Linked DNA regions of Homo sapiens. The protein of the gene in region 1 interacts with the protein of each later gene in a pairwise test. Each region holds a gene or a part of one and is shown in the gene's direction. Other genes may lie near its edges.

Region 1 (3,338 bases):
GGAGTTCCCAAATAAAAGGTCAGGCAAAGTCTTCCTAAGGTATTGTTAAACCTTAGTTAATATAGCTATTGGGATTCTTGTGAAAACGTGACATTGGAGAGGGGAGTGGAGAGACTGGCCTTGAATTTCTTCCTGCTGGTGAGGGATGCCACAGTGCCGTGAGACTTCACTGTTATGGTATAAGCAAGATGCTTTCTCAGATGTTTGCATATGAAATGGAATATTTTCCCCCTTCAGGAAAAACACATGCATGAGGTAATATGCCAATCAATGTAGCTTAAGAATTCTGCCCCACTATTAAAAAAGTTTTGAAAACGCTGGATAGATTTTTGCTGGGGACCCCACTTTCATCTATTTTCAGACTCTCTAGTCACTCCTTAAACCCCAGCGAATATGTCTTTACAGAGACACTAAACGTTCATGTCTGCAGTTTGGCCCGAAAAAGCAGAAAGCTGTTCCTTACTGCCCAGTTATTTCTAAATAATAGAAATAACCTAATGGCGCTGTGGAATGGGTTTCCAGAGATTACGATTTAGCCTTTCATCCTACCTGCCTTCTTTATGCCCTATCCTGCTGAGGCGTATGGATTCCATTCCAGGCCATAATCATCCAGATAGCTGACTTTTGCTATAATTGATGTCAGTTTTTATGGATTTTCTGCATTAAGTGTAGAACTAAGTGGCTTTTACTTTAAAAGTAGTCAATTAGCCCCAGCTTGCTGGATGCCACTGTGAGGTCACATTTTTGCCTGTCGCTGGAGAGGACAGGACCACAGGAGCAACCTAGCTTTCCAAAGCTTTGGTCATCCGGAACCACAAGGGGTAAGACTTAGTGTATCTAAAGAGAGCTGGGTATCTTGTGACCAGTTTACAGGCAGCTCCTCTCAGTCCTTCTTTGAATCATCTTAGAAGTAAACTGCTATAAGAAAGATATAATAAAATAGCGAAAGTAACTGAATTGAGGGAGAAAGAGATATTATGGGACTGCCGGGAATAAATGTCATTGAGCTCATGAAGAAGATTTGAAACCCATGGCTGAATAAATCAAATCTCCTACAGAAAAAAAAATGTTAATTAACAGGAAGAAAAAAAAATGGAAACCAAAAAAAAATTTCAAGAACCTAAAGAAGACAAAGTGACGAGTGAAAAGTTTCTTAAAAGCCATTGTGAGCTTTAATGGAGAGGCTAGGATTACAGATAATGTAATAAACCTTCTGTGAGTTATGGCTTCCTGAAAGTCTAAATGAAACCTTACCTGAAGAAAGAAAATTAAGTGTATTGATTGCATTTTGCCCTTAGGTTTTCGAGACTGGGTTCCAAAGGAGCTTCAAAGAGTGGGCTGTGTGGAGCTGTTAAACACGGTTCAGAGGCGAGTCCGGCCCAAGCTCCATGTGTTTGGTGGAATCCATGAAGGTAAGAACAGCGGAAAAGAATTCAAAACATTTTGTGCCCCTGTCCACTATCTCAGTCTACAACTAGGAATAAGTGGAGTAGTTGTTTTCAAACTTTTTAGCAGCGGGACCCTTTTATAAGATGAAGTCTTATGAGAAACATCTGAATATAAAGCTGATAAATATTTTATATGGACCTTCTCTCTTGTAAACAGAGTGGAAAGTAGGAAGCACGTCTGGTCTACTAACTGCAAACCCTGCACTCCCCCTGGCAGCTTCTGGAATCTCAGGGCTTTAACGAGGAATGTTTGATAACCACTGCTTTAGAGCAACCCCAAGGTATACAAGGAGTCATTTTCTCCTTAAGAGAGTTAGAAGAAATGGTCTGGATATTAGAAGCTATTTTAAGCCTCTATAGTCCCCTCCTACCTGTAAATATTGTGTTTCATATGGAATTAACACAAAGACCCAGGAAGACAAGGCATTCTCTGAAAAATAGCTTAGGACATGCAATGAAAGATATGTAACAGAAGTGGCGGGAACCTGCACATTTGCAGGTAGACTTTTCCTTACTAACCTCAGAAAACTATTTCAGACTTCTCAGAAATCATCGGAGCTATTAGCTCAGGCTGAGGTTAAGCAGAATAATTAAATCTCTCTTAAATAGGAACTGGTCCAGTTGCCATTTTTCTGCCTTTCAAGGTAAGCTGAGTCAGGTTCACAGAACCGAAAGCCTAACAGGAATCTTCAAGGGATCTGGGTTTTCTCCGACCTGCCTTTTTCAAATCATGGGTAACTGGGCTTTGAGACAGACACAAAGCCCTCTTTCAGCAAGCCTAAGGATTTCTGTCCCTAGCAGATTTTCCCAGTTACACACGCTTGTGTGCAATGGCCGTGTTTACGTGGGCAGCCGCTATATTCTCTCTAGCTCCTGCTTATGGCAGCTCTCTGGAGTTACTTATGAATATGCAGTCAAGTTGAGGTGTTTAAGGCTGTGTGCCTGAGGAAGCAAAAAACAAAGTTTGCTTTTTCAAAGCCCACAAATTCAGTGGCTTCCTGGTTAGGTGGGTAATAAAGAGCATATTGAAAATCATCCTACTGAGGCCAGAGAAAATTCAGTTTGCTCCAAGGGCAGGTACCAGCTGAGTGGGTGGAAAGCAGGGTGCAGCTCCCAGAGAGTGGATATCGGCCTGCCCTGGCTTTGAGCTATGCTCCCTGAAAAGGAGGGTACTGCCCTAAGGTATGATGGAGGGAACACCAGTGATGGGGGAATGCCTGGAGGGGAGACTAGGGAGGTGGGACCTCATATCTAAACTAAGCAACATTTCTGGAGGACTGTTATTCTGAAAACAGGTCTGAATTCGTGCAGCATGCCTATGAGTTTGCATTTTATCTTTGAAAAAAATCATTAATTACCTTTAAACTAGCCAGACAATTGGGGAATTCCACTGAAGCCCCAAAATAATAAACTTGCCTAAAAGGGAGGAGATCATATTCATATAAACTTGTCTCACTTTTATTCACTTAAGACAGCTGAAGAGGGCAGGAAGAGGGCAAATACCAACCTCTTGATGGAGAGAGATAACAAGACTTTATGACCCCAGAACTAAACAGCGCAGATTTTAAATGCCTCTTTTCTTTTCTTAAGAGATTTTTCCATTGACCCTCATTAAGTTCTCCACAGGCTTTACTTGGAGAAATTTTAGCCAATGTGGAAAAAAGCCTTTTCAGTTACTTCTCTATATCTTGGTAATTTTATTTTTTTCACAGCTATGTTTTTATATGCGATAAGAGCCTGATACCAACATAGAATCTTAGTTGAAGAGGCTATAAGGCAAATATAAGGTATTCAGGGAAATGTGCCAACTTGCAAACATGCTAAACATTTTATCATATTGAAAATTATCAAAGGAACATATATACCAAAGACCTAGGGAAACAACTTTCT
Region 2 (3,500 bases), on another chromosome or scaffold:
TAATCATTGAATTGATTCATTAAGTCTTTAAGTTCTCTTGCATTAAGGAACTGCTAAGCATTAATTTTCCTTGGATTTTGCTAATGTAATTGGACTTAAGCTCATACTCAAACTGAGGTTATATATATGTACATGTATGTAGAAGAAATGATGGCGGTTACTGTAGCTGTACTTGTGAAAAACTAGGATACTTTTCTTGGCAGCATTACTAATGTCATATCAAGAGATTGCCTCAAACCAGAAGCCCCTGTCTTGCTCATGTTAGAATTTAAAGTAGGGTTAATGTCTTAAGGTTCCCCCAGAAGGAGATTTGAGTGCAAGTTGTTTATTTAGGAGGTGATCTCACATGAATAAGGGAGTGTGGAGGCCAGGGAGGGGCTAAGACAGTTAAGGGAAGGATTCACTCCTGTCCATCACTGCTTGAGTGCTGCTGGGTTGTGCAATGGAGTTCTAATTCCCTGGCATTTCTCACCTGCCCATGAAGGCCTCAGCAAATAGAAAACCGGCAGGCCAATAGATACAGGTGCAGGTAGTTGCAAGTCAGGTTAAAGCGATGGTACCGAGGGGAGGGGATGGGGCAGAGACAGTGTCTCTTACCCCGGATGAAGGAAGGCTTCCCTGCTTTTATGTGTTTGGGACCTGGGACGCTTTCAGATGCCCTTGAGGATTTTTATTGAGTATGTATCTATCTGTCTGTTCCCTTATGTCTGTAGATTGTCCCCAGCTACGGAAAACAAGCTCCGGCTGCATTACCGTAGGGCCCTCAGGAACAATACAGATCCCTACAAGCGGGCCGTGTACTGTATCATTGGCAGATGTGACGTCACCGACAACCAGAGTGAAGTGGCGGACAAAACTGAGGATTACCTGTGGCTGAAGGTAGGCACTGTTTCCCCTGCCCACATAGGGCTTTACCCCTTTTCTGTGCTCAAGTCCCCGCAAAGATTTTACCTGCTTAATGTATGATGCCAATACAGTGATCAGGACCAGTGGGTTCCTCGTCTCCTGTCCCCATTTTTTGTTGTGTAATTCCCAGCTCATAACCATAGCCTTAAACACAGCTTCTAGCTGACATCATTGAGCATGGCTGCTGAACAGCTACAACTCTGTGCATGTGGCTCAGGGTGTCATTTGTACCAATGCATGTGTTTCTCTTGGGGATTTAGTTGAACCAAGTGTGTTTTGACGACGATGGCACCAGCTCCCCACAAGACAGGCTCACTCTCTCACAGTTCCAGAAGCAGTTGTTGGAAGACTATGGTAAGATTCTGGACATAACCACCTTTCCCTTCTCTTGTCCACTTAAGGTGACTACTTCAGTTTTCCTCTGGGAAAATTTTTCATCTCTGAACTTTTGTCTTTCTTCCAAAACTCCTATAGATTGTCAAGGCAAAACACAACAAAACTACCATTCCAAATTCAAATAAAGGGCATGTGGCCTTAAGAAATACATAAAACTTATATGGTCATACACAATAATCTGTTTTCTCTAATTCTTTGAACTGTTCTAGTAGACATATGCTCAGGGAGAGAAAAAGAAGACTTAGCTGTTGCTTCCTAGTCGATCGTACCAGTCACTAGATCTGAGCACAAAGGAGAGAGAAACAGCCTTTCTTCTTTTTTCCCGTATTTTTTAAAAACTGAGAAGAAAAGAAGATTCCAAATAGTGGTTACCAGTTGTTGCATTCAGATTTCTGTGACTGTGAGTAAACTGAAACTCCTTTGAAATCTTCATTTCTCTCCTTGAGTGACTTAACAGGGTAAAGGAGATAAACACTCTCTGTGGTCCATTTTAAGGTCCTTAGCTCTGTTTCTCTCCCACCTAATGCAAGCAGTTGGAGTTTTACAGCACAGTCACAGTTTCCAGTAATGTTATGAGGTCTAGAGAAGGTGGAGGAGCCAGGTCACATTTCACATGGCAGTTTACTGTATTCAGGGCCCCCTTGATCAATTCAGACTCAATCTGGTGCTTTCTTCCTGTCCAGCAAGTCCTGTGGGCTCACAGGGCTGCTGCCTGGGGGTTGGGCCACCAGTGAGCCCCTTCTTTCTAAGTTGGTTTTATCTCCTCTCCTCTCCTCTCTCCCAGGCGAGTCCCACTTTACGGTGAACCAGCAACCCTTCCTCTACTTCCAAGTCCTGTTCCTGACAGCGCAGTTTGAAGCAGCAGTTGCCTTTCTTTTCCGCATGGAGCGGCTGCGCTGCCATGCTGTCCATGTAGCACTGGTGCTGTTTGAGCTGAAGCTGCTTTTAAAGTCCTCTGGACAGAGTGCTCAGCTCCGTGAGTATTTGGGATTGGATTGACAGTAATGTAACCACAGCACGTCCCCCTTGGGGCGACGGTGGCCACAAAACCACAACCAATAAGGATTTGAGCAAAGGGTACCAGTCATTTTAGAGCATGTGGACAGTTGAGCTTTTTAGATGATTAGTGTTAAGGGTTCCTGCTTCCCCCCCACCCCCCAGCATTAGTATTCCCTTGAAAGTTAAGTATATAAAGTGATGTTCAAAGTACTAGCTTTGTGGCCAGTCTGATTGCCTGGAAAATGCTGAAGAAGCAGCCCCTAGAGTTATGGGTCTGATTCCCATTAGGGCTGGCTTTAATGACATTGGAAACCCCAGCCAGGCATGTGCATACCTGCCTGGGATGAGAGAGTCAGGGGAGAGAGAGGAAGTAAATGTGGATGAATGGCTGCAGGTTCCTTATTGTTGCAGCAAAGTCATCCCAGAGCACATGCCATAATCGTCAGTTGGATTATGTTTTCACTCAAAGACCAGCATATTAGTAATTTATGGCAAAGTGCTGTTTTCTCCACTCTGGGCCTGGGGATGAATTGAGGATAGGATGGTAAAAGGGACTGGCCAAAGCTTATATTAGCAAACTTTGACTGGGCTGCAGGAGTAGATGCTGCTGGGTCTGTGGATTCAGCTTCCATAGTTTCTGGGTTGCATGGGTCAGAGGGGCAGTGTGGTTGTGACCCATTCTGACCCCCACAATGCAGTCAGCCACGAGCCTGGTGACCCTCCTTGCTTGCGGCGGCTGAACTTCGTGCGGCTCCTCATGCTGTACACCCGGAAGTTTGAGTCCACGGACCCAAGGGAGGCCCTCCAGTACTTCTATTTCCTCAGGTAACATTTGCTTTTGACCATTTACTTCAGCTAGTTTCAATTTCTGCCATTCTGAGAATGACTATTAGAGACCTCATGTCCAGACTGGAAACTGAGTTGTTTATTTCCCTTACAGGGATGAGAAAGATAGTCAAGGAGAAAACATGTTTCTGCGCTGTGTGAGTGAGCTTGTGATTGAAAGCCGAGAGGTGAGTGGGTTTCCTTTTCTCTCCTCCCCATGGTTTTCAGTGTGCATGTCCCATGCTCATTCCGTATTGCGTGTTTACTTCAATATGGTTGTGGTGGATAAGGCCTAGGGAGTTTTTGGAGTTTCTTTGGTTTCTAACAATGAAAATATTTATTTCAGTCACACTGATTTTTAGTTTGCCTAAGAC

Evidence for each region.
Region 2: the proteins of MPPED2 (region 1) and NUP93 interact in binary tests that used the Homo sapiens proteins (3 or more experiments, as listed by UniProt).

What each region holds. Positions count from the first base shown.
Region 1 is NC_000011.10:30,412,302-30,415,639, reverse strand, and holds part of MPPED2 (metallophosphoesterase MPPED2), read left to right. Parts: intron 1-1,298; coding exon 1,299-1,412; intron 1,413-3,338. UniProt on the Homo sapiens protein: Displays low metallophosphoesterase activity (in vitro). May play a role in the development of the nervous system.
Region 2 is NC_000016.10:56,831,129-56,834,628, forward strand, and holds part of NUP93 (nuclear pore complex protein Nup93), read left to right. Parts: intron 1-713; coding exon 714-879; intron 880-1,166; coding exon 1,167-1,260; intron 1,261-2,086; coding exon 2,087-2,278; intron 2,279-2,999; coding exon 3,000-3,126; intron 3,127-3,241; coding exon 3,242-3,314; intron 3,315-3,500. UniProt on the Homo sapiens protein: Plays a role in the nuclear pore complex (NPC) assembly and/or maintenance. May anchor nucleoporins, but not NUP153 and TPR, to the NPC. During renal development, regulates podocyte migration and proliferation through SMAD4 signaling.